Homo sapiens: one gene and its partners. The protein of the gene in region 2 interacts with the protein of the main gene of each other region in a pairwise test. Each region holds a gene or a part of one and is shown on either strand. Other genes may lie near its edges.

Region 1 (7,932 bases), on a different chromosome or scaffold from region 2:
ACAAAGAGTTACATAAGATGAAAATCAAGGTGGGGGGTCAAGATGTAGGGTGAAGAGATGGACCTTACAGCCAATACAAATGTTTCCAGAGAATGACTCTGACAATGTGCCCATGAGTGTCAGTTTCCTGACAATGTGAACAGAGCAAAGCATTCAGGCAGTTATTACTGTTGCTTAACAGGAAGAAATCTAGCATCTGGCCCCACAGAGATTTCTCATGAGCAAGTTCATATAAACGGATATTAAGAGAACCACATCCAAAGACACCTACAGCATATACCTATTTCCCTTGATAAAAACAGCAGGCACAAACACTAAAACTCAGTGTAAATCTGATTCAAGCATGTAGATTTTGATGATGGATTAATATCATCCTAGGAATGAAGAGAATGACTGTAGCCAATCAATCAATGCCCTATCAATATCACTTCTCTCTACCAAATTTTTGGCAATCTCAAAATATCTGAAACTAAAAGTCTTCACCTTGCTAGAGTCTCCTCCTGCATTGTTGCTCTTCCTCTAGGCCCTATTTTAGCTAATGGCACCACCAGTCACCCAAACAGACTAGAGAAAATACTTGTGATGTGTATCATAAACAAAACATTGATACTCAAAAAAGTGAACTTCTTATAGAGATCAGTAAGAAAGTTCACTTTAAAAATGGGTAAGGGCAATTCAGAGGAAAGTGTCCACAAAAAGGAAAAAGTTCAACTTCACAAGTAATCAAGCCATAGTACCTTTATTTATGAGTCTATAACTGGAAATACACAAAAGTCTATCAACACATGAATGGATAAACAAATTGTATCATATTTACACAATAGAATATTACTTAGTACTAAAAAGAACAAATTACTTACAGCAACCACATAGTTGAGTATCAACATTTGTATCTAAAAGAAGGCTCTGGTTCATTTACTCCACCCTGTTTATCCCACAAAATCCTGCTATTAAACTGAGAGAATACATGGACTAGCTATTTGAAGGCTCTTACATAAAAACAGCGACGTGCAGATTGGAGAAGACCAGAATTCAAAGCACCACCAAACTGGTGGCGTGTTTCCTGCTTTTCCTGCAGTATCGCCTGGCCTAACCTCAAGGCAGGACTCAAGAAACATCTGACAAAATTCAACGCAAATTCATGATAAAACTCTCAGAGAAAGAGCAATAGAGGGGAACTTCCTCAACTTGATAAAGAACATCTACATAAAAAACCCTGCAGCTAACACTGTACAGAATGGTGAAAGAACGAATGCAGGGAACAAGGCAAAGCTGTCCGCCGTCTCCACTCCTATTAAATATCGTACCAGAAGTGAATTCAGAGTCAGCACAACAAGGCAAGAAAAAGAATTAGGAGGCATCCTGATTCACAAGGAAGAGGTCAAACTGTCTCCAATCATAGACATCTTTGTCTACATAGAAAATTTCATAGACTTCAACAAAAAACAAAAACTCCTAGACTAAAAAAGTGAGTTTAGCAGGGTCACAGGACACAAATTCACACAAAACCAACTGAATTTCTATATGCTAGCAATTTGAACTGGAAATGAAAAATGTTTAAATGATTTACAACAATGGGTGCAAAAAATAATTAAATATTAGGTACAAATCAAATAAAACATACAGGATCTGTATACTGAGAACTACAAAATGCTGAAGAAAGAACTCAAAGACAACCTAAATAAATGGAGAGACACATCATGTACATGGAATGGAATACTCAACACAGAAATGATGCCCAGTTCTCTCCAAATTATCCATAGATTTACTGCAATCCCAAATCACAAATCCCAGTAGGATTTCTTATAGATACATAAATAAGCCGGTTCTAAGATTTATATGGAAAGGCAAAGGAACTGGAATCACCAAAATGAATCTGAAAAAGAACAGAGTTGGGGAAATCACACTACCTGATTTAAGATTTACTATAATGCTACAGTAGTCAAGACAGTGTGTCATACTGAAGAAGAGATAGACACACAGACCAACAGAACAGAATAAAAAGTACAGAAACGGACGTGGACAACTACAACAAACTGATTTTTCACAAGGGGGCAAAAGTAGTAATGGTGGTGGTGAAGTCCCCTGGGTGGCCCAGGCCAGGATTGCGAGGTGACTTCCTGCTCTCCTTGGCATTACTGGGGGACTGCACTGCAGGGGCAAAGCAACACCAGAACTGGGAAAAGCAGCCTCTCCCGCTGCAAGGTCCCTCCAGCGCCCTCTACTGACAAAGCTCAACATCCTACTTCCATTGCAGCACAACAAGTAGAGGGAGCCGAATAAACTGAAAACTGGCAAGCGTTGCTGCTGGGCTCTGAAAGCTGCAAAAAGTGCTGGAAATGATCTACAGCTTGGTAAGAAAAAGCAACTACATTCATAAAGACGTGAAGGAAAAATTTCACTGTTCACAGATGGCATAAAAAGATTTTATAGACAAAACCCAAAAGAATCCCAGACAAGACTTTTTTAACAAGGTGGCTGGCTGAAAGAGCAACATAAAATATCAACTGTATTTCAACACACTAGCATGAATCAGAATGTGTAGTTTTAAAAATCGTATCATCCACAAGAGCAACTAAAGTTATAAGGTATCCAGGAATAAAACTGAATCACAGATGTACAAGATCTATACGGAAAAATAATAAAAAGTCTATTCAAAGGCATTAAAGAAGACCTAAATAATTGGAGAGAAAGCCCGTGTTCACAGATAGAATACTCAATATCATAAGAGATATCTACATGGTTCCAATGCAATTCCGATAAAAATTTCAACAGGATTTTTGAAAATAACTGACAAGTCTGATCTAAAATTTAGATGAATGAGCAGAAACACAAAAGTAGCTGCAACACTCCTGAAGAATAAGGTGGAGGAATTTGCATTACCAAATATTAAGCTTTAGTACTGTCATAAAGATCGAAAGTTGACCAGTGGAACAGAACACAGAAACCAGAGTCACAGCCACACATACATGGGTTCTGATATATGAAAGAGACAATGCTGCAAATGTTGGGAAAGGGAAGAATTATTCACTAAATTCTGCTCAATTATCAGTATGGAAAAAAGGAAACTGGATCCCTATGTCAAACTATAACTTGTGATATAACTGATCTCCCAACATTATGCTTGCCTCCTGCTCTCACTCCCCTGGTGACAGATAACATGAGTGCCTGCCACAGATTCTCCATGTCTCACCTCTGCAGCAAAGCAGTGTCCCTGTACCCCTTGAATATTGGAATTATCCAACCCCAAAATCTCATTTTGAGGTGCCTTTCTGGAGACATTTTCAATACCAATTATTTCTGTCAGGGCCCCAAAACGAAACAGAGGACACACTCAAATTAAGACATTTCAAAGCAATATTAAAATGTTTATGAAGTTTGGGGCAGCATATAAGGGAAACCACAGGGATAGAGATGTTACTGCACTTCCACCTGAAGGGTCAAGGGGAAGGAGAGAGAGGTGTGAGGAGGGGCCCCACCTTGCAGGGAGTCTGACCTGTCTAGCAACAGAGCCAGCACGTAACAAGCCCACAGGGAAGCAGCCAACAAAAGTGAGGCTTGGGCAACAAAGGAGATGCAACTTGCACCATGTTTCTGCAGAACTGTGCTTGGGAGTCCTGAGGTCATGGTAGTGTGAGGAAGCCTATACTGGCACAGGGACCACATGGAAGAGCACTGAGACTATGGACAGGGGGGAAATAAGGAGAGGAGGAGGGAAGACAAACAGAGACAGAGACACAAAGAGGCCCCACAAGTCCAGACCTACCCTAACCCTCTGATCATCTGGCCTGTAACCACATGAGACTCTGATCCACAAGCACCTACCTTAACCCTCCCCAAACTCCTGTAACCATGAGAGAGAATAAAGTGATCATTATTTGAAGCCATTAGGTTTGGGGGAATTTGTCATGCAGCAATACCACACTCAACCCAGCTACAGCCAGTTACCAGCTTCCCTCTTCGATACATTTGATTTTCACCTGACCTATCTGCAAAACTCACTCCAATCATGGTGCTAATGCAGAACTTACCTTGCAAAAGTGAGGGTTGCCAACTGTGGGAAGAGACAAACGGCTGTGAATTCAGAGACTCTGGCATGATTCAGCAAGTTATGGCTCCCACAGCACAGCAGAATCACCTCAGGAGTTTTAAGTTTTCCAATGAAATCAGACTGTGGGTCAGGAGTGGCACACGTTGGCTCTTTTAAAAACTCCTAGGTGATTCCAATGTGGAGCCAAATTTGAATACCAATGCCACAGAGCTAAGAAATGTATGCCTAATACAATCAAATGTCAGTTTTCTTTTGTTTTTGGAGAAACTGCTCCCTTTTTCAAGTCTTGCTTGTTAGTCTCTCCTAAGCAGTCTCAGAGAACTGGCAACCACTGGTTCTGAAACTATGGGTCAAGGAGACAGCAGACGACATCTGACTGTACTGTCACTTAGCTCCCATTTCTCATCACATGCTCAACATCCCCTCTGTGAAAGCTAGCTATAATATTAGCATATGACACTAAATCATCACAGCACACTTGTATTTTTGAAATCACATCCGCTTAATAATTCAGCTGGTCTTAAAAACTCTTTTAAGGGAGCTATGATAAGGAATTTGCACTTCTGTCGCCACATGAGGAAATAAAATGGGACTGGCAAATAACATTTACTAGTATAATGAATAAAATTTGACTCAAACGGTCACTAGCATTTAAAATAGTACATGAAAACAAGTGCTAAGGCTAGTCTAGTGTGACATAGCCAGGACTGTATTACAACTCCCCACACCACATTCCTTAATGGGCAGGTGGAATTTCCAAACATCTGAGAACATTTCACATACAGACCTGAAGGAGAAAAAATCCACCTCCCACAGCTGTTGCAGCCAACTTTCCAACCTTCTGGAATATGAAACCTGTGCACCTACAAAAACAAACCAACATCAGACAAATTGATGAGCTGTCAGTTACATACAAACATGCATTTCTGGCAATGTTCATATCTTACTTAGCTTAAGATGACCTAGCTCCTTCCTACCCCCTACATAAAGCCAGCCCCAAGAGGAGCATGACATAAGGAAATCAAATCTTGGCTCTATGAATCTTGTGGTCTTGAGTAAGTCCCTTAAAACTCTCAGGTTATATTTTTAAAAGATGACTCTGGCTACATTGTGGAGAAGAGATTAAAGGGGGAGGACGAAGGCAGAGACTCTAGTTAAGACGGTGAGGTAGCGATCCAGAAGAGAAGTGAATGCCAATGGGCCGAGGTAGAGATGGCAAGGAGGGAGCAGACCTGAGGAACTGTTTGTGAAGAAAAAAAAAAACACTCCTGAGTTTGAGGACAGGATGGTTGCAAGGGATAAGGCACAAGATTCTGTCCTGAATGTGGCATTTTTTACAATATAAAAACAAGGAAGAGGAATAGAGGAAAAGGTGGGGGAAGGGAGGGGAGGAGATAATGTCATTTTGAATATGTTGAATGCAAAATGTCCATATGATATCTGAGTGGCAACATCTTGTAGCCAGTTTAATATAATTATGTGTTTCTTTATTACTGTCTATCTTCCTGCCCCCACCCGATACTAAAATGTAAGCTTCATGAAGGCAGAGATTTTGTTGTTTCATTGCTGAACACCTATCAGCTGTAATCATTAACCATTGTTGAAAAAATCCTCCCTAGACTCCAATTCTCCAGCCCCCTTCCCTTTTCTGTGCTCTCCTTTACAGCAAAACTACTTTGAGGCCGTCTCTTTTGTCCTGTGTCCATATTCTCTCACACCTACACCATTCAGGCTTTTGTCCCATGACTTCAATGAAACCATTCCTATCAAGGTTACCACTGATCTTGACCTTACCAAATGCTAGTGTTCACTTCTCAGCTTTAATCTCATCTGACCTACAGCAGCTTTTGACACAGTTGATTACTCTCTCCTTTTTTTAAAAAAGGTATTTTATTGTGTATATTTGAGGTTTACAACATGATGTTATGGGATACATATAGACAAGTAAAGTGGTTACTATAATGAATCAGATTAATATATCTATCATCTCACATAGTTACTTTTTTGTGATAAGAGCAGCTAAAATCCACTTAATTCACAGAAATCCCTAAGGCAATACAATTGCATTAGCTGCAGTCCTCATGCTGTACATTGGATCTCTCGACTTGCTCCTCTTACATATTTGCTACTTTGTATCCTTTGACCCACATCTTCCCATTTCCTCCCATCCTATCCCTGGTAACCAGTTTTATTTCTTTATATTTATTATATTATACAACTGTATATATGACTTTTTCCCCACACATATGAGATCATGCAGTATTTTGTCTTTCTATGTCTGGCTTACTTCACTTAGCATAATGTCCTCCAAAATCTATGCTATGGCAAACAGCACAATCTCCTTTTTTAAGGCTAAATAGTATCCCATTGTAGACACATTTTCTCTATCCATTCATCCATTGATGGACACTTAGGATGTTTCCATATCTTGGCTACTATAAATTAATGCTGCACTGAACATGAGAGGGCAGATATCTTTATGAGGTGGTGATTTCATTTCCTTGGGGTATATACTCAGAAGAGGAATTGCTGGGTCGCATGGTAGTTCTAATTTTAATTTCTTTAGGAACCTCCATACTGTTTTCCATAATGGTTGTAACAATCTACATTCCCGCCAACAGTGTACTAGGGTTCCTTTTTCTCCACACCCTCATCAACAATTATCTCTTGTCTTTTTGATAACAGCCATTCTAACAAGTGCCAGTTGATATCTCATTGTGCTTTTAATTTGCATTTCCCTGATAATTGATGATGCTAAGCATCTTTTCATATACCTCTGGTGGCCATTTCTATGCCTTCTTTGGGGAAATGTCTGTTCACGTCTTTTCCCCATTTTTTAAATCAGGTTATTTGTTGTTCTGCTATTGTACTCTCTCCTTCTTGACATCTTTTTGCTCTGGAATACCATTCTCTCTTGGTTTTCCTCATATATCACTGGCCATTCCTTATCAGACAATTTTGCTGAGTCCTCCTCTTTCTGACTTCTGAATGTTAGGTTGTTCTGAGGCTCAGTCCTAGAACCTCTTTGCTCTGTGTATTCACTTTCTATCTGCTGGGTCTATACCATGATCTCTGATGTAGGTTACTGTTACAGCTCCTCATCTGGACTTCTTACCTCCACTTTCACCCCCTAGAATCTATTCTCAATATAGCAGCTCATACAGTCCTAAAACAGGGGTCGACAAACCGCAGCCTGGGAGCCAAATCCTGCCAGATGTCTCTTTGTAAATCAAGTTGCAACAGAGATTGTGTGATCCATAAAGCCTACAATATTTACCATATGGGCTCTTTACAGAAAAACTTTGCTGACCCCTGCTCTAAAATGTAAGATCAAGGTACACTTCTGCTCATAACCTTCCAGTAGCTTCCCTCCTCACTAAGAGAGAAAGTTAAAGCCTTACACTTAACATCTTGTCTCCCATTACCTCACTACCCTCATTGTCTACTGTTCTCCCCTTATTACATTTCAGCTCAGTAAGAGAAAGAATTACAAATACAACAATGCATGGAGAACCTCATAAGACTTTTAATCTTTTTTAAACAAAAGTTAGATGTCAGGCAGTATATTTCTGAAGCGACTCTGAAATTGGAAGGGTGGTAGGACCAGTAAATAAATGATAAGGGTCCATTTTAAGAGCATTCCACTGTTCAGACTTACTAAAGTATAATCAGAGTAACTGACATATTTAGAATGGTTACAGATTTTTGCTGTTACAAAAATTGTTGCACTGTTTACAACACCTGGCTTTTTCTCTTTTTAAAACAAAACACACATTTTAAATAAAGCCTAATAACAAAGCAAGACCCAAAAAGATCAAGTGATTTCTAAGTAACTGCATCCAAGAACAAGAATCAAGCACATTTATAAGAATAAAAAATAT
Region 2 (8,687 bases):
TCCCAGCTACTCGGGAGGCTGAGGCAGAATCGCTTGAGCCCAGGAGGCGGAGGTTGCAGTGAGCCAAGATGGCACCACTGCACTCCAGCCTGGGCAACAGAGCAAGAAGACTCCATCTCAAAAAAAAAACCCAAAAATCCTCTATACACCCCTCTCCTCTCATCAGCCACCTAAACCACCATCCTTTTGGGGCAAAACTTCTGAGTGTAGGTGTGCTTTTCTACTTAAAACCTCCCATTCTCCCTTTAACTCACTTGAGTGAGGCATCTATCCACTGAACTTCACTTGACACCAGTCAAGACCTCTAAAAGACATCCACTGCAGTCTAAATCCGCATCTCAGCATATGTGGCACAAATTATCATTTGTTTTTGAAACTTTTTTACTTTTACTTGGCTTCAAATACGTCTCCTGGTTTTCTATTTCATTGACATTTTTGTTGCTGTTCCCTCCTCTACAGACCTGATTCTGAAGTGCCACTCTTAACTCCTTTGGAATCTAGTCTCTTCCTAGGTATCCCAAGGCTTTCAATTAAATGCCATTATATGATGACTCCAGATTTCTAAATCAAACCCTAATCTCTCCCAAGCTTCAGCCTCATTCATCTGCTTAATGAATGACACTTTTATGTATAAAAAGCACCTTGAACCTCGTATTTGCAAAATATATTTTCACCTCCAAACCTTCCTCTTAATGGCACACTACTCAACCAATTTTCAGACCCAAAAACTAAGAGTCATCCTTGATTCCTTCATCAAATCCACATCAAATATATTAGCAAGTCTGGAAGGATCCACATTCTAAATACATCCTGAGCCAGACCACTGCCCACCAACTTCATTGCTAATACAGGTTGAGCATCCCAAATCTGAAACTGATACATCAAAAGACAATTTTTTTTTTGAATTGGGAAGCTCAACCTGTCCTATCAAATTACCATCTATCAACAGTACCTTTCAGATCTTGATTCTACTCATAAAAATGTGTATCAGATGACTATAATAAGTCCTCTGTAGCCTCCGATTATGCTCAGAATCCTTACCATTGCTCCAAAGGCCCTACATGATCCCATGCTCTTTCATATCCTACTCTTGTCCACTAGTCCAGGTACAGTGGCCTTGCCATTCTAACAAGCCGAGATGGTTATTACCGAACGAACACATGCTGCCTTTCTCCTGGATCTTTGCATGACTGGCTCAGTAGAAGTCTTGCTTATTGATTCCTCCAGTAGAATGTCAGCTCCTTAAAGGGATTTTTCCTGTCTTGATCAGTCTAGTACCTCGTTCAGTGTCTAATACTCAGTAGGTACTCTAAATATTTTTTGAATGGGTGAATTAAGAATTTACCTGAATGTGAATTTACCTGTATGTACCAAATTTCACATTTTAAAGTTTCTTAAAGGACAAGAATGTGGCAGAGGACAGTTTTTAGGGGCTAGTTCTATCAAGGTATGCCAGCTTGGTAACTCCCATTTTTACTTTAGGTTTGCTAATTCTTATAATAAAATAATCCTCCCTGGGTTGTGCTGGAATGATCACTGACAAATTCTTTTAAAAAAAATAACCGCAGGCTTCCTTTCTGACAGCACCTTGGGCTGTTAATTCATCATAGCTTCTATTAATTTAATTAGCTTTTTGATGGGCTCTGATAGGTACTACTGTTTCATGAGCAATTTTTGTTTTTTTGGCCTCCCACCTCTGACTGTGCTCGGTTTGAGGCTTATAACTATCTTCATTTCAACAACTACAGTATTGTTTTGCTACTTACTGATGGGCCAGTTAAATAGGTCAATGTTGATCCTCTTTTAAGTTTTTTTTTTTTAATTTCCAATGGATTAAACCACCTTTATGACCTTTAAAAACAGCAGTTATCTCCTACCAAAAGTCCCATTCAGGATTCCAGTGTTTATCACAAAACTGAATCTAGGATTTACTGTGTGTATGCAAAGATCTTTTTTTTTTTTTAAACACTAAGCTTATTCCAGATGGGCAGTGTATGGGACAGTAAAAACAGATAAGGCACCAGTAGTACGTAAACTGACAACCTGTTGGATATTAAGTATGAAAACAATTTATACAATATTTGTTAATATTAACCATATGATCTGATGTCATGGCCAAATTTGGATGGAAGCCCACCAGAGAAGCAAGCAAGAGCAAGAAGTGAGCAGAATTTCCAAGCTGGGAGAATATCTTAAGTATATATTAGGAGCCATTTAGCACACAGTGGGTCTTCTATAAATATTTGCTCGTGATTAGCCAATGTTACGATCTCCCTAGTTTATATTAAACTTTTTTCCTCTTGCATTATTCTTTTCTGAATACCTGTTCTGCCCTGAGGATATAAATTAGGTTCCCTGCTCTTAATAAGGAGCCCAGGAAAAGAGGAAAACAAGATCATTTATTACCTTCCAATATGATAAATGTAACGACGTACAAGATGCCTGGGAAGATGGGGAAAGTACGTAAGTCAGCTTTGGTGAAACACAGGAGCCCTTCCAGGGAGAGCGCTTGGTTTAGCTTTACTATACCAAGAATTTGGGTTTTATCCTTAAAGAGATAGGATGGGCTGCTACGACTGGATGTTAGGCAGAGGAATGAAAACTGTCCAGTTTACAGGCTGGAAAGGGCCAGCGGACAATAGTGGAAGGTGGATTCAGGAGAGTATGGAGACAGGGACACCAGCTAGGGAGGCTACTGGTGATGGGGAAGAAATCTTAACCCTTCATCTCATCGTAGTACAATCAAGTCATCCCTCAGCAATTACTCCTATGTTAAATGTGATGAATACAACGTGTTAAAGACAAGGCACCTGTCCTCAACGGAGCTTTAATCTCTACTATTAGCCTTTACTAACAAATTACAGTGCAGTGCCCTTAGCAGCAAAATTTTCTCGCCAAAGATTCAGTATTGTTAGCTTATTTCATAATGACCTGTAGTAAGTCATTAGTACTACTGGTCCCCTCCTCCCCCTAGTTTTGGTCAATTTTGTCCCGGCCACTTAGATTAAAATGTTGGAGGCTTGGGATAAGGACTAGGAACAGTTAAAATAGTTTCAAGCCCATGGGTGGCAGAGAAGCCAGTGACACGTGCTCCGGGCCTAGGAGCTCCGCGGAGAACGTCCTTACCCACCGCCCACCCGCGGCGCGCGCCCCGCCGACCCCCAGGTTACCTTCCTCTCCTCGGGCTCACCGGGCTCCGGCGGGGCGGCCATGAGGACTACTCCGCGACTCCACCCGCCCTGCACCGCCGGGGTCGCGGAAGCAGAAGCCCGGCTGGCCGCGCCCCTCCCCGTCCCGCCCCCACGCGCCGCCGCCTCCCGCCCTGTTCCGACGCGCCGGCCGCCATTTTAGGGAATGTTCCTAACGCTCCGCAGTGGCCGCACGGGGCCGGGCTGTCATGTCCTTTGTTCCGTCGAACGGGTCACACTTTCTTCCAAGCTCGGCACACAGCCTGCAGGGGCGGGAGAGCGGAAGGAGATGGGTTCGGAAAACAAACCGACTCCTAGATTCCTGGCGAGGTGGGGGCGTAACCGAGCCAGACAGCCCCGCTTCCCGCGCCAGCCCCCTGCTCCGCCCCAACCGCCATTTCTAACCGTCTCCGGCGCGCGTGCTCACACGCACGAGCCTCGGGCGCGCGCCGAGGGGCGGGGCCGCTGCTTTGTCCTGCGGGGTGGGCCCCACCGCGGGGGTCGGCCCGGCCCCAGCCCCCAGCCCGCCCCAGCCCACCGACCCGGAAGGCGCTCCGCGCTGGCTCGGCGGCCCTCGTCCCCTAAGTGTCCTTTGTCCTTCCGGCCACGGGACGAGCCCTTGGTGCCGGGGCAGCCCCACTCTGCACCAGCAGCCATTTAGTCCCCCGCGCCTGCCTTGCGCAAACGGGGCTCCCACGCCCACCCCACTTCCTCCCTTTTATAGTTTCATTACTAAGTGGCTTTAACATAGAACCGCGCAGTTCGCCTAAAGGAGACTGGGGACAAAATGGAGGGAGCAGCTCGCTAATGAACATGCGTCAGCACGTTGGTGTCCGCGGAGAGGGCGCGCGTGTGGCGAAGTCTTCCGGCGTCCCCGAAGGAAAAATGCCTCTGCAACGTGCATTTTTGATGTGAAGTCGTGTTCCACGTTTCACTCCTCCCTAAGACTGCGACATAACGTGAAACAAAATACTGCATATTGTCGAGCTCAATGGAGAACGCGTGCATGCAGGGTCGAGCCCATTTTTCAGCCATCAAAATAATACAATGCAATTTTTTCTAGTATTTATAATTTTTCCCCTTTAACTTTATGCCTCCTTTATGTACTTCTACATTTCACGTTTAGGTTATATGTAACCTAAGGGCACTCCTTAGGAAACTGGACTTGTAGAATATGTCATTGTGCAAAGTCATGCTGCTTCGAATTATGCTGCGCGCTGGCACACAGCAAGCGCTCAGTGTTAACGATGTCGAATTCATATTAAGTACTGTTCATTGGGCGTTTTCTTACTCCGTAAGGACCTTACTTGCATGCCCATTTGATACCTTTCTACAATCCCAGTAAAATACACAGTTAAGGTTGTGTATTTATGTGTCACATTTTTTTTTTTGAGGTTTTTTTTTGCGGGGGCGGGGGGGGTTTTTTTGTTTTTGTTTTTGAAATTGTAGTTAGAAACTACATACTGTGCCGGGCGCGGAGGCTCACGCCTGTAATCCCAACACTTTGGGGGCTGAGGCGGGCGGATCACGAGGTCAGGAGTTCGGGACCAGCCTGGTCAACTTGGTGAAACCTCGCCTCTACTAAAAATACAAAAATTAGCCTGGCGTGGTGGGGGGCGCCTGTAATCCCAGCTACTCGGCAGCCTGAGGAAGGAGAATAGCTTGAAAACGGAAGGCGGAGGTTGCAGGGAGCCGAGATCGTGCCACTGTACTCCAGCCTGGGAGAAAGAGCGAAACTCCGTCTGGGCGGGGGGAGAAACTACATACTGCTCTACTGTTTGCTAGGGAAAAGAAAAAAAGTCACCCTACTGGTGATATCCTGCCAATTCTGGATTCTCTGCTGAAATTATAATGCTAACTATGCTTTGAACTCCGGATCTGAAAGGCCGTGTTGAAGGTAGTAATATTCCATGAAGGAGGGGGAAATCCTTTTGAAGTCATTGTTGATTATGTTGTAAAAGGAAAACTGGAAAAGTACCAGCTAAAACACCACCGAGTCATCCTATTTTATTTTTATTATGACTTTGAAAATTTGCTAGAGTAGACATTGTTGGGGTCTATTTCATTTGTCTTTGAAAAGTATTTTCATAAGGATGATTTATTTTTTATTTTTTATTTTTTTTGAGACAGAGTCTCACTTTGTCGCTCAGGCTGGAGTGCAGTGGCGCAATCTCAGCTCACTGCAACCTCTGCCTCCCGGGTTCAAGTGATTCTCCTGCCTCAGCTTCCTGAGTAGCAGCTGGGATTACAGGCGCCTGCCACCACACCCGGCTAATTTTTGTATTTTTAGTAGAGAAAGGGTTTCACTATGTTGGCCAGGCTGGCCTCAAACTCCTGACCTCAGGTGATACGCCTGCCTCTGGTTTCCAGAGTGCTGGGATTACAGGCGTGAGCCACTGCGCCTGGCCTATTTTAAAATTTTTATTTTCACAAAATTGCATATAATATTTCCATTTTTAATTGTTTAACAGTTATAGAAAGGAAAGTAAAAATCTCAGTTCTTTCTCTCCTTTTTAAGGTAAATATAACTAACAGTTTGATGTCTCTCTTTTCAAACTCTTCTTTATCCTTCTTAAAAACAATTATTTGTAGAGACGGGAGGTGGGGGATGGTGTGTCACTTTGTTGCCCAGGCTGGTCTCAAACTCCTGGACTAAAGTGATCCTCCTGTCTCACCCTCCCAAAGTGCTGGGATTACAGACATGAGCTATGGCACCCGGCTTTTTCTTAATTAAATATTATTACACGAGGCCGGGCACGGTGGCTCATGCCGGTAATCCTAGCACTTTGGGAGGCCGAGGTGGGTGGATCAGCTGAGGTCAGGAGTTCAAGACCAGCCTGGCCAGCATGGCAAAACCCTGTCTCTACTAAAAATACAAAAATTAGCTGGGCATGGTGGCACACACCTGTAATCCCATCTTGGGAGGCTGAGGCAGGAGAATCGCTTGAACCCAAGAGGTGGAGGTTGTGGTGAGCCGAGATCGTGCCATTGCACTCCAGCCTGGGCAGCAAGAGCGAAACTTCGTCTCAAAAACAAAAAAAAATTATCCCACGAATACCTATATTTTGTCTTAATTAAAACAACACTGGAATATATGGGGTAAATAATGAAAGGCTCTATGTCACACTTGCCTCCACGCTTATGTATACATGTATCTGTATGTGATACACGCTGAAATGACACTGTACCACATCATTTGCATTCAGTAATTTACTTTTTGCCATATATCTGGGAACTTGTTTGATTTATGTACTACAGATTTACTCATTCATTTTAATGACTGCTTAGTAATCCTTTCTTTTCTTTCTGATTGACATTTCTTTTTTTTTTTTTTTTTTTTTTTTTGAGACAGCGTCTCGCTCTGTCGCCCAGGCTGGAGTGCAGTGGCGTGATCTCGGCTCACTGCAGCCTCCGCCTCCCGGGTTCAAGCGATTCTCCTGCCTCAGCCTCCTGAGTAGCTGGGACTACAGGCGCCCGCCACCACGCCCAGCTAATTTTTATATTTTTAATGGAGACGGCGTTTCACCATGTTGGCCAGGAAGGTCTCGATCTCTTGACCTCGTGAGCCGCCCACCTCGGCCTCCCAAACTGCTGGGATTACAGGCGTGAGCCACCGCGCCCGGCCTCTGATTGACATTTCTGAAAGTTTCCATTTTTTACTAATCCCCAAAAATGCTTCAATCAGCATCTTTATGCATACATATATATCTGTGTACATGTTCAAGTATTTCTGTAGGGTAAATATCTGGAAGTGGAATAACTGATTTAAAGGGGTATACACAATTTAAAATGTAATACATACTGCTAATTTGTCCTCCAAAAATACTATCAATCTACATTCCCCACCAACTGTATGGGAGAGTTACCTGTTTCCTCACCTTTTCAACACTGCATATGTTCACATTTTTTAATTTGGGGGAGGGTGGGCGTGATGGCTCAGGCCTGCGATCCCCTTACAATTTGAGAGGCCAAAGCAAGAGGATCTCTTCAGGCCAGGAGTTCGAGACCAGCCTGGGCAACAAACGAGACTCCTCCCAACACCCATCTCTGTCAAAAAAAAACAAAAAACAAAAAACAAAAAAAAAACAAAAAAAAAAACCAAAAAAAAAAACAAAATTAGCTGGGCTCAGTGGCATGTGCCTGTAATCCCAGCTTTTGGGGAGTTTTGGGGGTAGCTGAGGCAGGAGGAAGCATTGCTTGAGTCCAGGAGCTTGAGGATGCAGTGAGCTATGATTGTGCCACTGCACTCCAGCTTGGGCGACAGAGCAAGACCCTGTCTCTAAGCTGAATCTCATGGGGGCGGAAATGGTATCTTATTGCTTTAAACTTTTCCTGATTGCTACTGTGGTTGAGCATTCTTCCAAATGTTTATTGACCGTTCTTTCTCTAAGAATTAACTTTGTATAGCTTTTGTGTGTTTAAAAATTTGGGGACAGCACTTTGGGAAGCCAACGTGGGCAGATCACATGAGGTCAGGAGTTTGAGACCAGCCTGGCCAACATGGCGAAACCCCGTCTCTACTAAAAATACAAAAATCAGCCAGGTATGGTAGTGTGCACCTGCAGTCCCAGCTACTCGGGAGGCTGAGGCAGGAGAATTGCTTGAACCCAGGAGGCGGAGGTTGCAGTAAGTCGACTGTGCCATTACACTCCAGCCTGGGCGACAAAGTGAGACTCTGTCTCAAAATAAATAAATAAAATTGGTTGTGTATGTGATTTTCGTGTTAAAGTAGCTCTTTACAAGCATAGTTTTTAGTCCTTATATATGTAACGAATATTTTCTGCATGTTCACTTATTTGTTGTTTTTGTTTATGGGGTCTTTTATTTCTCAAACGTTTTAACTCTTTTTTTCTTGCAGAGTCAAATATGTCAATATTTCCTTTTATGGTGCTTGATCTTGTGTCTTGCCTAAGTAGGCATTCTTGACTCATAATGAAAACATACTTTCATGATTTTGAAAATAATTCTATACTCCCTTTCTCATTCATAATTTTGAATATTTTTTCTTCTAAAAAGACCAACTTTTGGTTTTACTATTTTTTATTTCATTTTCTATTTTACATTTTAAAAAATTTACCTGATCTATTCTATTGTCTTTTTTTAGCTTTTTGAATTGACTACTTCATTCACTTTTTCTCCGTCTTTTTTGGTTTCTAATGAATGTCGTTATGACTATAAAATTCCCTCTGAGAATCATTTTATTGTTCATTATATCAGATTGTCATAGAGGTAATGTTCCTGTTAATCTTTCCTAAATTTTGTATAATTTCAGCTTTTATTTCACAAGTGAATATGATTGGATATGCTTTTGTTGTTCATTTCTATTTTTTGTCTTATTATGTCTTATACTGTGGCCTGTTTATTTCTACTTTTGGGGGTTTATTGATTGTATGTGGGGTGTGTGTGTGGTCTTACCTAAGAGATATCATTTCTGGCCTGGCATGGTGGCTCATGCCTGTAATCCTAGCACTTTGGGAGGCTGAGGCAGGTGGATCACTT
Region 3 (7,774 bases), about 94 Mb from region 2:
GGGCCAAGCATGAAGGCAAGAAGACCACTGTCATCTTTCAAGGGCTCAACTCCTTGTTCTTCCTACTCCCTTTTCTTAGCGTTTATTTGAGATTTTTCAAGCCTGTAAAAGAAGTACTTGTTTTAAAACAATGTTGGAAATGAGGAAAATGAGCAATATCAACATTTTATCCTGAGGGACAGGGAGTAGAAAACAAGCCAGAGGCTGCTAGTTACATAGTTCAGTCTTAGGGATGAAGGGATTTATGTCTCTCCTCCCTCAGGTACCTCTGTAAAGAAACACAAGACCAAACAATGTGTTTTCCAGTTTTGTTTTTCTGTACTAAAAATATCTAGTGGGTGCTAGGATTGAAAGGGCAAGAGAGGTTGAGATACTGACATCTCCTCATGTGGATGAAGTGGCCATTACCTCTGGTTTCTGTCTATCTGCGTAAGAAAAAAAAATAGAGAAAAAGGGAAATTACAACCACATCTATATTCTTTTCCCTTCCTTGCTTCATCTCCCCCTCCCACAAACCCATATTCCCTCAACCCTACTGCCCACCCCTTACTTATTTTTGTATGCAATAATGGTATTGGACACACAAGGAGAAAAACAGAAACAAGCAAAATGACCAAGTGTAAGCTTTATTACCTTTCCCTCCTCAAAGTCCTATCATCCGTATCAATTGAGACTACCTTATCAAGTCAATCAGAACCTTTGCTAATTCTGGGAAAAGCAGAGGACTATCCTTCCTTGTCCTGGAAGGACAGTACTCCCAAATGGTAGTGGTGAAGAGAGTGGGCACTGGTGTCAAACCTGGTTTAAATCTCGTGGCTCTGCCACTTACTAGCTTTGTAAACCTCAGTTTCTTCATCTGAAAAGCAGGGATAATAATACCTCATAGGATGTGAGGATCGATTCAGGTAAAGTGCACATAGTAAGACCTCAAATTTTGGCACTTGTTGCTGTTAAGCTGTATTAGGTCAAAACTATTAATTGATTAAGATCCTTCATATCTGTTAATTATCTGTGCATCAAAAAGACTTTATGGGCCGGGCACAGTGGCTCATGTCTGTAATCCCAGAATTCTGGAAGGCCAAGGTGGGCAGATCCTTGAGCTCAGGAGTTGGAGACCAGCCTGGGCAACATAGCGAGATCTTGTTAGCCAGGCATGGTGGTGCACGTCTGTAGTCCCAGCTATTCAGCAGGCTAAGGTGGGAGGATTGCTTGAGCCCAGAAGATGGAGGGTGCAGTGAGTTGTGACTGCGCCACCACACTCCAGCCTGAGTGATGAGAGACCCTGTCTCGAAAAAAAAGTCTTATGGTCAGGGGCACAGTAGCTCATGCCTGTAATCCCAGCACTTTGGAAGGCTGAGGCAGGAGAATTGCTTGAGCCCAGGAGTTTAAGACCAGCCTGGGCAACATAGCGAGATCTTGTCTGTGAAAAAAACAGAGAATTTCCAAGACCAGGCATGGTGGCTCATGCCTATAATCCCAGCACTTTGGGAGGCCGAGGCGGGTGGATCACTTGAGGTCAGGAGTTCTAGACCAGCCTGGCCAACATGGTAAAATGCTGTCTCTTCTAAAAAAAAAAAAAAAATTAGCCGGGCATGGTGGTGGGTGCCTGTAATCCCAGCTACTCAAGAGGCTGAGGCAGGAGAATTGTTTGAACCTGGGAGGCAGAGGTTGCAGTGAGCCAGGATCACGCCATTGCACTCCAGCCTCGGCAATAAGAGTGAAACTCTTGTCTTGAAAAAAAAAAATATTTCCAATCTTAACTATTTGGTCAATAATCACCTAATGAGCAGTAAGACATTTTACCTAATGACCAACCAGTAGTTGCTCAATAAATAATAGGTGGAATCAATGGCTAACAATGTGAATAACCAATGCATGTTATGAATCAATAACCAGGTAAGTCAGTAACAGTTCATGTAAGCAACACTGGCTGGCTTAGCAACTGGGTTTTAGATACCAGGACTTTTCAGATCCGTCAACAAAGACCCTGGCTCATCACCAAACACTTACTGGTTGCATCTCTGTGAACACTGAAGAGAGGCTATTCCAAATATCCTCCAGGCCAATCCTGACCCGTTTCCAAAAAGCCAGGGCTGGGCAGGGGCTGGCGGGTGGCAGGCTGGGACTGCTTCTGAGGTGGATGGTGGGGAAGGGGGTAGTGGTGGTCCTGGTACTGGTGGTGCTCTGAGAGGCACAGTTGGTGTCAGTACAGAGACTTGTGTCCAGGGGGCACTCTTCCCGAAGTCGGTTGCAGGGACATTGTTGATAGGTGCAAGGCTTGTGCTCCGTGCGGAGCTGGCTCAGCGCCCCAACTCGAAGGCGCCCGGAAAGGCCGTGCAGCTTCCCAGACCGGCTCCGGCTCATGGTGCCCGACTTGCAGTGGCAGTGCCACGGGCCCCAGGGCATCAGCACCAGCCGCAGATCCTCAGGAGATGGCATGGCTGTGGGTGAGGGTGACGGCCACCGGCTCGGGGTAGACCCAGGTGTGGACCACTGGCTCAGGGTGGCCTGCGAGCCTGGCAGGTCCTCAGTAGACCTCCCGGGGGAGCGCGGCAGGCTTGAAGTCAGCCTGATTTCAGGCTCCTGACTATTGGCTATAAACCTCGTGCTGGAACTCCCCGCTGTATTGGGAGTCGCACTGGGAAGCTCTCTGCTGGTGCTATCCTTTCCGGCATTAATCACAACCCCCTCTTCTGAAGACCCATCCTCCTCGTTAATGGCGGACGACCGGCTAAAGCCGGTGGACACCGTGGCGGCCAAGAGCTCGGCAGCCGCTGGTCCAGCCAGGCGGTCGGCGTCGGCCATGGCATCATTCTCGTCCTCTAGGATTATCCTTGTCTTCCGGGGAAGACCAGTCCGGGCGGTGCTCCGGTAGCTGCGGGTCATGGGGCCCCCAAAGCGTAAACTGACCCGCTGCATTTCGGTCGGAGTCTGGGTCAGGCCTTGGGCCCCCGCCGCCCGGGGACCCAGATTCAGCAGCAGGACCCACAGCAGCGCGCCGGCGGCGGGGACCATGGGGCTGGGCTCTTGGGGTTGGGAGGGTGGCCAGTGAGGCAAGCCCTGCCTCCTACCTTCGCTCCCTCCCTTCCGCTGTAGACCCACCGGGTCGTTTGAACCGAGGCCCGCGGGGAAGGGGGTGGGGTTCGACGCGCAGGCGCGCTCGCGCGGGCCGCGCGGGGTGCTCCTAAGGAACCTCTGCGGCAAGAACTCTGCCAGAACCGAAGGTTTGGGATGCAAGGGGTGGTGAAAGAGTCGTTCACTTCTTTGGAGCAGAGCTTAAATGTCTCATCGCAGTTTATTAGCCTCTACAGTTCTAAATTTACTAAAGAGGGCAAAAATACAGGTTTTGAAAGCACTCCTTCCCAGGCTCACAGGCAGCAGACATGACTTAGAAGGAAAAAGGGCATACAGCGGTTCTTCAAGATTTAATGAGCTGACTCTCCTGGCTCCCAGCAGGCAGGCTGGCTGTCAGGTAAGCCTCTTCCATCCAAGGTGGAAGGATCACAGTCCCTCCAGTTAGACAGGAGGAAAATTAGGACCCAAAAAGATGAAGTTATTTGCCCAAGGTTCTACAGCTAAAGTAGGATTAAAACCCAGAGCTCTGGCCGAGCGCGGTGGCTCACACCTGTAATCTCGGCACTTTGGGAGGCCGAGGCGGGCAGATCACGAGGTCAAGAGATCGAGACCATCCTGGCCAACATGGTGAAACCCCGTCTCTACTAAAAATACAAAACAATTAGCTGGGCGTGGTGGCGTGCGCCGGTAGTCTCAGCTACTCGCTGAGGCTGAGGCAGAAGAATGGCTTGAACCGGGAGGCGGAGGTTGCAGTGAGCCGAGATCGCACCACTGCACTCCAGCCTGGCGACAGAGCGAGACTCCGTCTCAAAAAACAAAAAACAAAAAAACCCAGAGCTCTGCATATCCCATACAAAATGACCCTACATTCAGCCTTCCGTCCCAGCAACTGGAATGAAAGTCACCCAGCAGATCAGTTTCCCAGCCTCAAAGCCCTGCTGAAAGTAGGGTCATGCAAAGGACAAAATCCCACTGAGAAGTGAAGATCCGGTGGTACTGAGGTTGGGGATAAGATGATTTACAAAACAGTTCAGATGTTTCAGGGATTCAGGTGTAGGCAGATCACTAACTGGTTCTAAGGCCTTTTATCCAGTCCTGTGCTATGTCCCTCCTGAGCCATGGAGATCCCGGTCCAGCCTAGGAGAGGGAGAGGGGGAGGAGAGAAGTGGTTCAGGGGGTAGGACTTGGGTTTTATTTTCTGGTTTGGGGAGAGAAGCCAGGTGAATTGGAAGAGCTAGATGATTGGGTTGAGTCATCATTTAGCACTTTTGCTCCCTAACACCCTCTCCCCCACTGGATATCATCTGTTCACTGCCAACACATCTCTTCCTAATTTCTAGGGCCAGTCTGAATCTCCTCTGCACTGTGATTATTCCTTTATTCCTTATTGCCTCTGCACTTATATGTATAGGTTTTTTTTTTTTTTCATTTATTCTTGTTGGATGCAGTAGTGTCCTTCATTTCTTCTCTGGGTGTGTGCAGTTTCCCCATATACATTAAAGCACCCGAAAACAGGGCCCTCTAGCTTTTCGTTCTTTTGTATGTCCCCCAAGGCATTAAAAAAGTAGAGATTGGCTTTACACATCCCACCCCAAGGCTTTATTCTTAAGTGTGAAACTCACTGTCTGACAGCTTCAGGGATGTGGACTTGATCCAGGGATATGAGTTGGGCCAGCTCCCCCAGGCTGTCCAGAAAACGGATTTTTCGTGTGAATTTGGAACTGAAAAGAGAGAATAAATCAACTGTGTTTTGTATTGGGAGAAGGGTTCCCAAAAATCCTTGCAAAGAAAAATGTAGAAGTAGAGTGGTTAAGGCTAGAAAGAATCAAGGTGGAGAAAGATCTTAATCTTGATTTTGAAAATGGGGGGAAGGAGAAAGGAGTCCTTGTTCCTAGAACTAGTACCTGATGAAGGGCCGAAGCAGTGCCAGAAATGCTTTCACATACCATGTAGCATGGACAACCACCAGGGCTCGCAGGTTTTTCCGTAGCCTGAAAAACAACATGAGATCATCCTATTTCTTCTTCCACCTTTATGTGTGAAGATCACGTGGAACTGTTTTCTGTACTGTAACTTCCTTCATTCACTTCTCTAGTTTCTAGATTTATCTGGTACTTGGGTCTAATCCCCATTCCGTCAGCTGTAATCTCAGCTCCACCCATCTTATTTAGCCCTCCATGATCCTCATTTTTAAAAAAACTCTCAAGATTTTTTTTTTTTTTTTTTTTTGAGACGGAGTCTCACTCTGTCGCCTGGGCTGGAGTGTAGTGGCACTATCTCAGCTCCCTGTAAGCTCTGCTTCCCGGGTTCATGCCATTCTCCTGCCTCAGCCTCCTGAGTAGCTGGGACTACAGGCGCCCGCCACCGTGCCCGGCTAATTTTTTGTATTTTTAGTAGAGACGGGGTTTCACCATGGTCTCGATCTCCTGACCTCGTGATCTGCCCGCCTCGGCCTCCCAAAGTGCTGGGATTACAGGTGTGAGCCATCGCGCCCGGATTTTTTTTTTTTTTTTTTTTTTTTGAGATGGAATCTCACTCTGTCGCCAGGCTGGAGTCAGTGGCTCGATCTCGGCTCACTGCAACCCTCCACCTCCCGGGTTCAAGTGATTCTCCTGCCTCAGCCTCCCGAGTAGCTGGGATTATAGGCACATGCCACCATGCCCAGCTAATTTTTGTATTTTTTTAGTAGAGATAATGACTTGTCACCATGTTGGCCAGGCTGGTCTTGAACTCCTGACCTTGTGATCCGCCCACCTCGGCCTTCCAAAGTGCTGGGATTACAGACGTGAGCCACCGCGCCCGACCACCTGGTCTTTTTCTGCTCCATTTCCATCTTGTGCTCTACCCTCGCGTAAGTTCCTTTTGCATGCTTCTACATCGCTCCATGACCAAGATTACTTATAAAACTCTAGGTGGAAGAAGACCAGCAAGGACGAAAAAAGGAAAGGGGGCAAGAAGAGAAATGTGAGCAAATGGAGATGGGGGAACCAAAAGGGGAAAAAAAAAAAACCTGAGAAGGAAAAGAAGACACAGGGCCAGGCACAGTGGCTCACACCTGTAATCCCAGCACTTTGGGAGGCCAAAGCAGGCAGATCACCTGAGCTCAGGAGTTCAAGACTGGCCTGAGAAACATGGCAAAACCCTGTCTCTAACAACAACAACAAAAATACAAAAATTAGCTAGGCATGGTGGTGGCGCATGCCTGTACTCCCAGCTACTTGGAAGGCTGAGGTGGGAGGATGGCTTGAGCCAGGGAGGGAGAGGCTGCAGCGAGCCAAGATCTTACCACTGCACTGCAGCCTGGTGACAGAGAAGACACATAGGTCAGTGATGAAGGCAGAGAAGAAGATAATGGAGGTGTGGAAAGGGAAATAAATGGCAAGACTGAGAGAAGAGTGCTTTCTGTGTGCCAGGCAATATGCCACACTAATTTACTCGATTTTCACAAATACCCAGTGGCAAAAGTATAACTATTGCCATTTTACAGATAAAGAAGCTGAAGTGGCCGGGTGCAGTGGCTCATGCCTATAATCTCAGCATTTTGGGAGGTGGAGGCAGGCAGATCACTTGAGCTCAGGAGTTTGAGACCAGCCTGGGCAAAATGGTGAAACTCCATCTCTACAAAAAATACAAAAGTTAGCTGGGCATGGTGGCCCATGCCTGTAGTCCCAGCTACTTGGGAGGCTGAGGTGGGAGGATCGCTTGAGCCTGGCAGGCAGAGGTGGCAGTGAGCCGAGATCGTGCCACTGCACTCCAGTCTGGATGACACAGCCAGATCCTGTCTCAAAAAAAACAAAAAAACAAAAAAACTGAAGCTGAAGCCCAGAGAGGTTAAGTGACTTGTCCAAAGCCATACAGCTAGTAAACAGTAATGTGGTAACAGCAGGATTTGAAGCTAGATTTCCTTGACTCCAAGAGAAGACAGAAGACAAAAGAGCTGGGAAAGGAACGTAAAAGGACAAAGAAAATAGGAAAAGGACTAAATGGAAGAAGAAATAATAGAAAGATGGGGAAAAAAAGATGAGATAGAGAGTTGTAGCCCTCTCATCCCAGGTCTCACCGCCGATCCAGGGTACGGTAACACTGACGTATCCAGCTTAGAGGTGGAACTTGGGCCCTGCTTGTGCCTCCACTCAAATGAACAAGCAGGTAATTTTCAGCTACTAGCAGCTCCAGAGTTCCCACCATATACCTGGGGGGATGAAATTGCAGGGAAGGTATGTGTTAGGGGCTTCAGAGAGTGAGAGGAACATTACTGTAGACTCTCCCATCAGCTACTGATCTTTGAAGGAGTTCTTTTTTACTTTTCCCTCCCTAACACTGCCCTGTAGCCCTTCAGGCCTTCCACCTCACCTAAACAAGTGTTCCATGACATAGGTGTAGTTGGGGATGCTGCTTCTGGGTAGATAACAGGAAGCAAAAAGGATGACAGCATTGAGGCCATCACCGTGGTAACCTGGAGAGTGTAAGGGGAAAATTCATTTGGTCAACAAATATGTATTGACAGATAGTATATCTGTTTAAGTTGAGGGACTCTGAGGGTCTCTGGAAGTTCCAGGATAGATTTTGGATCCAATGACTGAGTCTCCAGCTTAGGCATTTTATTAAGAAGCCATAGCTCTTAACACCTGCATTATGCTAGCCATTACCTCCATGAGACAGGACTTTCTTATAGGGCTCAATGACAGTCATGTCTACG
Region 4 (7,932 bases), on a different chromosome or scaffold from region 2:
TTAGATATTTCTGTGCTTAGAAAGCAAAGGTTCACCAGCAAATAAGAGGAAAGTAATACTTATTACTGAGTTTCCTCCAGATAACTTAAGTTTCCATCAATATTCAGAACATCCAAGAAGCAAAGTATGTATTCTACTAATCTTCACATACAGACTTCTCTATTCATCCGCTCTCATGAAGCCTCCAGGCTGCAAGGGACACAGTACCATGGGTTTTGAGCTTATCCGTCATCTTGTTGATCTTTCTTTCCAGCCTGGCATATCTGGCAAACTCGTCCATCATGTTGACTGTGGAGAGCTCCTGCTTCATGTCCTGGATCTCCGCTCTCATCTGTGACTCCTGCTCCGCGTCCTTCTGCAGCACCCTGGACATCTGGCAGGGCGGACAACGGGGATCAGCACCTTCCAACACGGGTCACAGGAGGGTTCCCCAGTCCCCCGCTACTTTCTGTCTATGCCCTGACCACTCTGTGACCCAGCCAGTTGTGTGCGTCCCTGCAGGACTGAATGCAAACTGCGGCCGTGAACGTTCCCAGGACTGATAAAGAGCAAAGGCTGTTGCTGGAGAACACTGGGAGATTCATCCTGCTGAGAAACACCTACAAACTAGCCCCACCATGACAAAGTCCTTAAACTCCCACATACACTCCATACCCCAACCCCCGGGTGGCAGACAGCCCTAGGTAAATGTCCCTTTCTCTCACTGGCTGTCCCGGGACTGCCGCAGCTCTTGTAAGTTCCCGTCATGAATGCTGTGGACTTATCACCCTGGCGTTTAGTGCTTCTTTCTTTGGAATCCAAGCCAGCCCCATCTCCAGGCAGTCTGGAGCAGCCCCTTGAGGGAACTCCCCTGCCACTGCTTTTGAGGTGACTCCAGCATGGGTTTGGCCAGACAGAACCGGTACACCTTCCTCCAACATCCTACTCCCACCTCTGCCAACTGGGCAAGCTGCCCTCTACCTACACAGCCAGCCTCTGCTGCCTTTTTCGGCTCCCTATAACGACCACAAAAAAAAAAAAAAAAAAAACTCATATTCAAATTGCTATTCAAACTATATTTTTCCTTTTACAGATATGCCCATGAATTTGCTCCAATACAAATGTTTGTCTGTTTCACTATAAATAAAATTGCAATTGTGAAATGAAAACCAATTCCATCACCAGAGCTGTTATTCCAGTGACAGGGAACATGTAACCTCTCCCCTCCCAGAAGAATTCAGTCCTAGATTAGACGGGGCAGAGCAAGGTGCAGGTGCAGGGTAACAGTGGTGAGGCAGGGGCCCAGGGCAGAATGTCAGTGCCCAAGCTCAGTGCAGAGGGCCTTCCCACAGAATGGCACCCTGGCAAGAGGCATCAGGGCCAGGCATGGTGATACAGGGGTCCCCAAGAAAGGGCAGCCTGACACAGGAGTCAGGGTCTGTAGGGTGAGGGAGACAGACATACAAGACAAGAAGGAACCCTGCCAGGGTCGGAGCCCAGGTGGGGAGAGGCATGCATTCACTTGGGTAACAGTGGGCGGTGGACACCAGAGATTAATTACAAAAGGGTGATCACAGAAATAAACATATTGAGAGTAACGGAAGCCAGTCTTCTCACTTTCAACAAAGACACTTAGAAAGATGCCTCAGCCTGGCATGGTGGCTCGGCCTGCAACCCTAACACTCTGGAGGCCGGGGTGGGAGGATCTCTTGTATACAGGAGTTCAAGGCTACAGTGAGCTGAGATCATGCCATGGGACTCCAGCCTGGGCGACAGGGTGAGACCTTGTCTCAAAAAAAAAAGGGGGACAAAAGAAAAAAGGCCAGGTTCGGTGTCTCATGCCAATAATCCCAGCACTTTGGGAGGCCAAGGCAGGTGAATCGCTTGAGCCCAGGAGTTCAAGACCAGCCTTGGCAACATGGTGAAACCCTGTCTCTACAAAAAATATGAAAAATTAGCCACTTTCATAACCTGGTGAAGGAAGGAAGGGAAGAAGGGAGGAAGGGAGGGAGGAAGGAAGGAAGGAAGGCAGGCAGGCAGGCGTCTCGGAGAGAAGCAGAATGAATCTTGTGGTGTTGGCTTCAATTGGAGATCTGTGGTTTCCACAGATAGGCAGAGAAATACAGACATAAACAAAGAAGCACGCTCCCCAGGCTGGCCTGGCTGGTCCCTGTGAGCAGAGGGGCCCCGCATGACCTGGAGGCCCGCCTGCGCAGCCCCCGCAGGCCCCTGTTCCCTGCACCAGCCCCAGCCGTCCACTCTCCAGGGAACGGCCCGGCCACGGCACCGGGATGGGAGAGGTGACTGGAGCGCAACGGAGGAGTCGGCAGTGACCGCCAGGTGGCGCCCGCAGATCTGCCGGGAAGGCCTAGTCCAAGGACTGCGCGGGCGCCCCAAGACCAGATCCCTCAGTGGCGCCTCTGGCACCTACCCCAAGGGATCAGCGAACATCCCCAAATCCCAGTCCCACACCAGCGGATGAGACACAATGAGAACACAGCACTGCCTCTCAGAAATCCCTACCAAGTATCAGACATGCCAGTAGGCGTCCCTTCTGCGAAATCACTGGCCTCTGACACCCACAAATGACAGCCATGAAAGTCAAGGGAAGACTGGGAAACTCCTCCAGACAGGAGGCTAGAGGCCGGGAAATGCAATGCATGATTCCGAACTGGGTCCTTTCCCTGTTAAGGACATTACTGCGAAACGTGGGGAACCTGCATGGGGTCTGAGGATCAGATCGTGGTAACGTACTTGACGCCTGCATTAGATCTCGGCTCACTGCAACCTCGACTTCCTGGGCTCAAGCGATACTCCCACCTGAGCCTCCTGAGCATCTGGGACTACAGGCCTGCACCACCACACTCGACTAATTTTTTTTTAGTTTTAGTAGACACACGGTTTCACTATGTTGCCAGTGAACTCCTGAGCTCAAGCGATCCGCCAGCCTCGGCCTCCCAAAGTGCTGGGATTAAAGGCGTGAGCCACTGTGCCCGGCCCCCAAGATTCTTTTGAATACCAAAGTATCTCGGAATGAGGGGGTTTGGGTTGACAACTTCCAAATGGTTCAGGAAACAAAATCAGTTATCGGTATTGACTGTATATAACTTTTCTGCACATTTGTGTTTGTTTCGAAATTTTAAAAATAGATTAATAAAGACGAAATGTTATAGTGTATCTAAAGTGTGCCTGGCACACAATAAATCAGATCCCCCCCCCTCCCCCTTCCAGCTTACAGGTCTCCTCCGCCTGCCGCACAGTAGGGACAACTCTCCATTTAGAGCTTGGAAGCCGCGACCCGCCAGTCGCCTGAGGGTGTCTGCGCATGCGCGTGGTTTCTGACCCGCCCAGTGATGCCGCCTACCAGCGCCTGCGTGATGAGGCAAAAGTGGGGGGGGGGAGTGTGGGGAGTAGGGGGGGTGGAGGGGTCTAGGGGCTCATGCGCAGCGTGTTCACTGCAGCGCAGCTTCTGGCAGCCTTTGCGCAGGGAGTAGGGGGTTCAAATCCAGCTCTCTTTGTGGTGCCTCTGCCCTGGCCACTACCCAGCACTATAACCGAAGGAGCTATACTCCAGCCTGATCCACTCTGGAGAAGGAAATAGGAATGGGCCAAATTCTCTTAGATGAATCACAAAATTATCTTTCAAAAGCAAGGAAAATCTACAGACACTGCTAAGGACTTTTTGATAATTTCGCCTTATACAAATTACACTTCAATAAATCTGACTTTTAAAACCATATTTTAAAAAGAAAAAGAGATTCCAAGACATTATTTAGCATTATAGGGAATACACAAAACAACTCAGGAATGGGAGGTGAGTGAAGGCAGAAGGGTGAACTTCAGGAAAACTGAAGGCAGCTTTGTAAGGTTAACAAAAACAACTGGTGCTTGAAAAAATAATTACATCTATTACATGTATAAGCACAATAAAAACTGTCTGAGCCAGGCGCAGTGCAGTAATCCCAGCACTTTCGGAGACTGACGCGGGAAGATCGTTTGAGCCCAGGAGTTCGAGACCAGGCGGGGCAACATAGCAAGACCCAATCTCTACCAAAAAATTAAAAATTAGTCAGGTGTGGTGGTGCACGCCTGTGGTCCGTGTGGCCCCAGCTACTCAGGAGGCTGAGGCGGGGAGGGAGGGATCACTTGAGCCCGAAAGGTTGAGGCTGCTGTGAGTTATGATGGCACCACCACACTACAGCCTTGGCAACAGAGTGAGACCCTGTCTCTAAAAAAAAAAAAGTTTTAAAGTATAAATTTGCAAATATGTATCAATGTTAATCCAAGACCCACGTATAAGTGTTAAAATGTTCTAGAATCATGCAGTGTAAGATTTAATATGAATCTAAATGTAATAATGCAAATATTAATTTTTAGAACAAAAGTGAATCTCTGAATTAATTGATGGCATGACAACGTGCACACCCCGTGCTAGTCCCTGCCAGCAGTAGAGCAGGCAAACCCAGGAACCACCAACTCAGGTCACCCTGAGTCCCTGAACACAGAGGACAGGGTCTTCCAACTCAGGAAGCTCCAGACCCTGAACAGCCCCAGATGCCACTCTCGGCCAGGAACCCTACCGGCAAGGGCGGAGAAGCGGGCAGCTCTCCAGGCCACCAGCCCCAGTCCTTGGCTGCTGCCCCCACGAGAGCCCCACTGGAGGCCCTGCCCGCACATGCGCACTTCACAAGCGCGCTTCTGAGTCACAGGATTCTGGGGTAGGTCCTGTGAAGCAGAGAGTCGTCCTCCTAAACTAATACTTGGGGACCATTCCCAAGCCTGGTCCATGGCAGGGACTCACTAAGCAACGGCTCTGAGGAAAAGGGTGTGGGGGCGGAGGGGGTGCTCTCTAAGAAGATGACCACAGAGGCAAACCCTGCAATATCCTCCTCTCGCTTCAGTCCCCTAGAGGAAAAAGGAGGTGGCCACTCTTTACAGCAGAAAGTGAAGGATAATTTAGAAAAAGTTGAATCTCAAAGGGCACTCGGCCCGTAAGCCCAGAAGGCAACACACGCAGAGTCCTTCATCTGCAAAGCTCGGATTGAGAGGAAGGGCCTCCTGGCGCCTGCGCAGTGCATGTGGCTCGTGTGGCCACTCAGCCCACACCAGCTCTGGGGCGCCTGCGCAGTGCGTGCAGCTCGCAGGGACCCTGAGCCAGCGCCAGTCCTAGGGCGCCTGCACAGTGTATGCGGTTTGCATAGACTCTGAGCCCGCGCCAGTCCTGGAGCGCCTGCGCAGTGTGTGCGGTATGCGTGGACTCTGAGCCCGTGCCAGTCCTGGGGCACCTGTGCAGTGCGTGCGGCTTGCATGGACTTTGACCCCGCGCGAGTCCTGGAGCACCTGCGCAGTGCATGCAGTTTGCACGGACCTTGAGCCCGGGCCAGTCCTGCGACGCCTGCGTAGTAGTGCCGTTCGCATGGACCCTCAGCCCCCGCCAGTCCTGGGGCACCTACGCAGTACACCTCCCCTGCACCCGCAGAGCTGCAGAGCCGGTGCTCACCAAAGGCGTCTTTGTTCCCCTCTATAGCTGAAGAAAGTCCTGGACCACCTACTGAATGAACTAGGCGCTCTCAACCATGCGTCCCCGTGACCAGCTTGAAGAGAAGGGAGCGATCCCAGGAAAATTCCAACCACGCCAACACCACGGACTTGGTGTCCTTACCAGGCATCCCACCCCCACCGCAGCGGACAGCTGAGATCGCCTCCCAGGACCTTGCTAGGCTTAACTGGCCCAAGGACTTCTGATACTTCAGACCTCCTAAGGCCTCACGCGGGGGGAGGGGGGAGACCAGTGCGGGGACCAGTGCGGCCTAGACTGAGTGCTGAGATCGGGGTGCTGCCTCCCTAACTTCTGCTAAGACGAAAGCTTCAGAAACATCCCAACGGAGGTTATAATCTAAGTACCTGAGCGCGGCCCCATCCCTGAGGGCACTGTTTTCCCAATTCGACTTTCTGCTGCTTGTCATGAGTCTTTCCCACTTGAATCCTCAAATCAGAGAGGCTGTGATGAAGTAGCCTCTGACGATGGTGAAGGAGCAGCATTTGACCCTACTGAAGACCAGCGCGTTCCTTACAGCTTTTCACAGACTCTCACCACAAACCCAGTGACCAGGCCAAACATCTCTCTTACCGATTACAGGGTGGGTGTACTCTGCTGGGATAATAATTATGTTATCCTTCTGAACCTGGCTAACAACAAGTGTTAACAATCATAGGGAAATGGGTTTAGGAAAGCTAACTGGGTTGAGGTTAGAGAGGCCATAAGGTTGTATGAGGCAGCACAGGATGTGGCCACAGGTCCTGAGTCACAGAGCAAGACCCGGCCTCTAAAAACAAATTTTTCTATTTTGGAGGGTGGAGGATAGGGGGTGGGAGGGAGACAATCAGGAAAAATAACTAATGAATACTAGACTTAATAACTGGGTGACGAAATAATCTGTACAACAAACACCCATGACACAAGTTTACCTATATAACAAACCCGCACATGTATCCCTGAACTTAAAAGTTAAAAAAAAAAAAAAAAATTGTCGGCCAGGTGTGGTGGCTCACAGCTGTAATCTCCGCACTTTGGGAGGCTGAGGCAGGTGGATCACCTTAGGTCAGGAGTTCGAGACCAGCCAGGCCAACATGGTGAAACCCTCTTTCTACTAAAAAAAATACAAAAATTAGCTAGGTGTGGTGGTGCATGCATGTAATCCCAGCTACTCGGGAGGCTAAGGCAGGAGAATCGCTTGAACCCAGGAGGCAGAGGTTGCAGTGAGCCGAGATAGCGCCACTGCACTCCAGCCTCGGCAAAAGAGCAAAACTCTGTCTCAAAAAATAATAATAATAATAATAATAACAACAACAAAAGGAACTCAACAACAAAAAACAACTGGATTTTAAAAGGGGGCAAAAGATTTGACTAGACATGTCTCCAAAGATAAACAGATGGCCATAAGCATCTGAAAAGATACTCAACATCACTATTAGGGAAATGCAAATCAAAACTAAAATGAGACACCACCTTACGTCCATTAGAATGGTTAGTATTACAAAAAAAAAAAAAGGCCGGGGGTGGTGGCTCACGCCTGTAATCCCAGTACTTTGGGAGGCCCAGGCAGGTGGATCACCTGAGGTCAGGAGTTCGAGACCAGCCTCGCCAACATGGCAAAACCCCGTCTCTACTAAAAATACAAAAATTAGCCCAGCATGGTGGCATGCACCTGTAATCCCAGCTACCTGGAAGGCTGAGACAGAAGAATTGCTTGAACCTGGGAGGCGGAGGTTGCAGTGAGCCAAGATTGAGCCACTGCACTCCAGCCTGGGTGACAGAGAGAGACTCCCTCTCAAAAAAATAAAAATTAGCTGGGCGCAGTGGCTCAAACCTGTAATCCCAGCTACCTGGAAGGCTGAGACAGAAGAATTGCTTGAACCTGGGAGGCGGAGGTTGCAGTGAGCCAAGATTGAGCCACTGCACTCCAGCCTGGGTGACAGAGAGAGACTCCCTCTCAAAAAAATAAAAATTAGCTGGGTGCAGTGGCTCACACCTGTAATCCCAGCACTTTGGGAGGCCAAGGTGGGCAGATCACCGGAGATCAGGAGTTCGAGACCAGCCTGGCCAACATGGTGAAACCTCGTCTCTACTAAAAATACAAAAATTAGCCGGGCATAGTGGCGGGCACCTGTAATCCCAGCTACTTGGGAAGCTGAGGCAGGAGAATCTCTTGAACTCGGGGGGCAGAGGTTGCAGTGAGCTGAGATTGCGCCATTGCACTCCAGCCTGGGCAACAAGAGCAAGACTCTGTCTCAAAAAATAAATAAACAAAATAAAATAAATAATAAAAAAAAAAATAGGCTGGGCGCGGTGGCACAAGCCTGTAATCCCAGCACTTTGGGAGGCCAAGGCGGGCAGATCACAAGGTCAGGAGATCGAGACCATCCTGGCTAATTCGGTGAAACCTCGTCTCT

The links.
Region 1: the proteins of COX20 (region 2) and FUNDC2 interact in binary tests that used the Homo sapiens proteins (3 or more experiments, as listed by UniProt).
Region 3: the proteins of COX20 (region 2) and C1orf56 interact in binary tests that used the Homo sapiens proteins (3 or more experiments, as listed by UniProt).
Region 4: the proteins of COX20 (region 2) and GET1 interact in binary tests that used the Homo sapiens proteins (3 or more experiments, as listed by UniProt).

What each region holds. Positions count from the first base shown.
Region 1 is NC_000023.11:155,043,491-155,051,422, reverse strand, and holds part of FUNDC2 (FUN14 domain-containing protein 2), read right to left. Parts: intron 4,915-7,932; coding exon 4,839-4,914; intron 1-4,838. UniProt on the Homo sapiens protein: Binds directly and specifically 1,2-Diacyl-sn-glycero-3-phospho-(1'-myo-inositol-3',4',5'-bisphosphate) (PIP3) leading to the recruitment of PIP3 to mitochondria and may play a role in the regulation of the platelet activation via AKT/GSK3B/cGMP signaling pathways.
Region 2 is NC_000001.11:244,830,240-244,838,926, reverse strand, and holds the start of COX20 (cytochrome c oxidase assembly protein COX20, mitochondrial), read right to left. Parts: upstream 3,270-8,687; 5' UTR 3,213-3,269; coding exon 3,171-3,212; intron 2,443-3,170; coding exon of another isoform or gene 2,407-2,442; intron 1-2,406. UniProt on the Homo sapiens protein: Essential for the assembly of the mitochondrial respiratory chain complex IV (CIV), also known as cytochrome c oxidase.
Region 3 is NC_000001.11:151,043,089-151,050,862, reverse strand, and holds the start of C1orf56 (protein MENT precursor), read right to left. Parts: upstream 3,113-7,774; 5' UTR 3,016-3,112; coding exon 2,011-3,015; intron 426-2,010; coding exon 405-425; 3' UTR 1-404. Other genes in the region: BNIPL (bcl-2/adenovirus E1B 19 kDa-interacting protein 2-like protein), read right to left, coding at 4,176-4,212, 4,698-4,796, 4,980-5,066, 7,136-7,267, 7,429-7,531, 7,725-7,774. UniProt on the Homo sapiens protein: Involved in control of cellular proliferation. Onconcogenic modifier contributing to the tumor suppressor function of DNMT3B.
Region 4 is NC_000021.9:39,383,139-39,391,070, reverse strand, and holds part of GET1 (guided entry of tail-anchored proteins factor 1), read right to left. Parts: intron 3,291-7,932; exon of another isoform or gene 3,216-3,290; intron 374-3,215; coding exon 208-373; exon of another isoform or gene 1-207. Other genes in the region: GET1-SH3BGR (WRB-SH3BGR readthrough), read right to left, coding at 208-373. UniProt on the Homo sapiens protein: Required for the post-translational delivery of tail-anchored (TA) proteins to the endoplasmic reticulum (ER).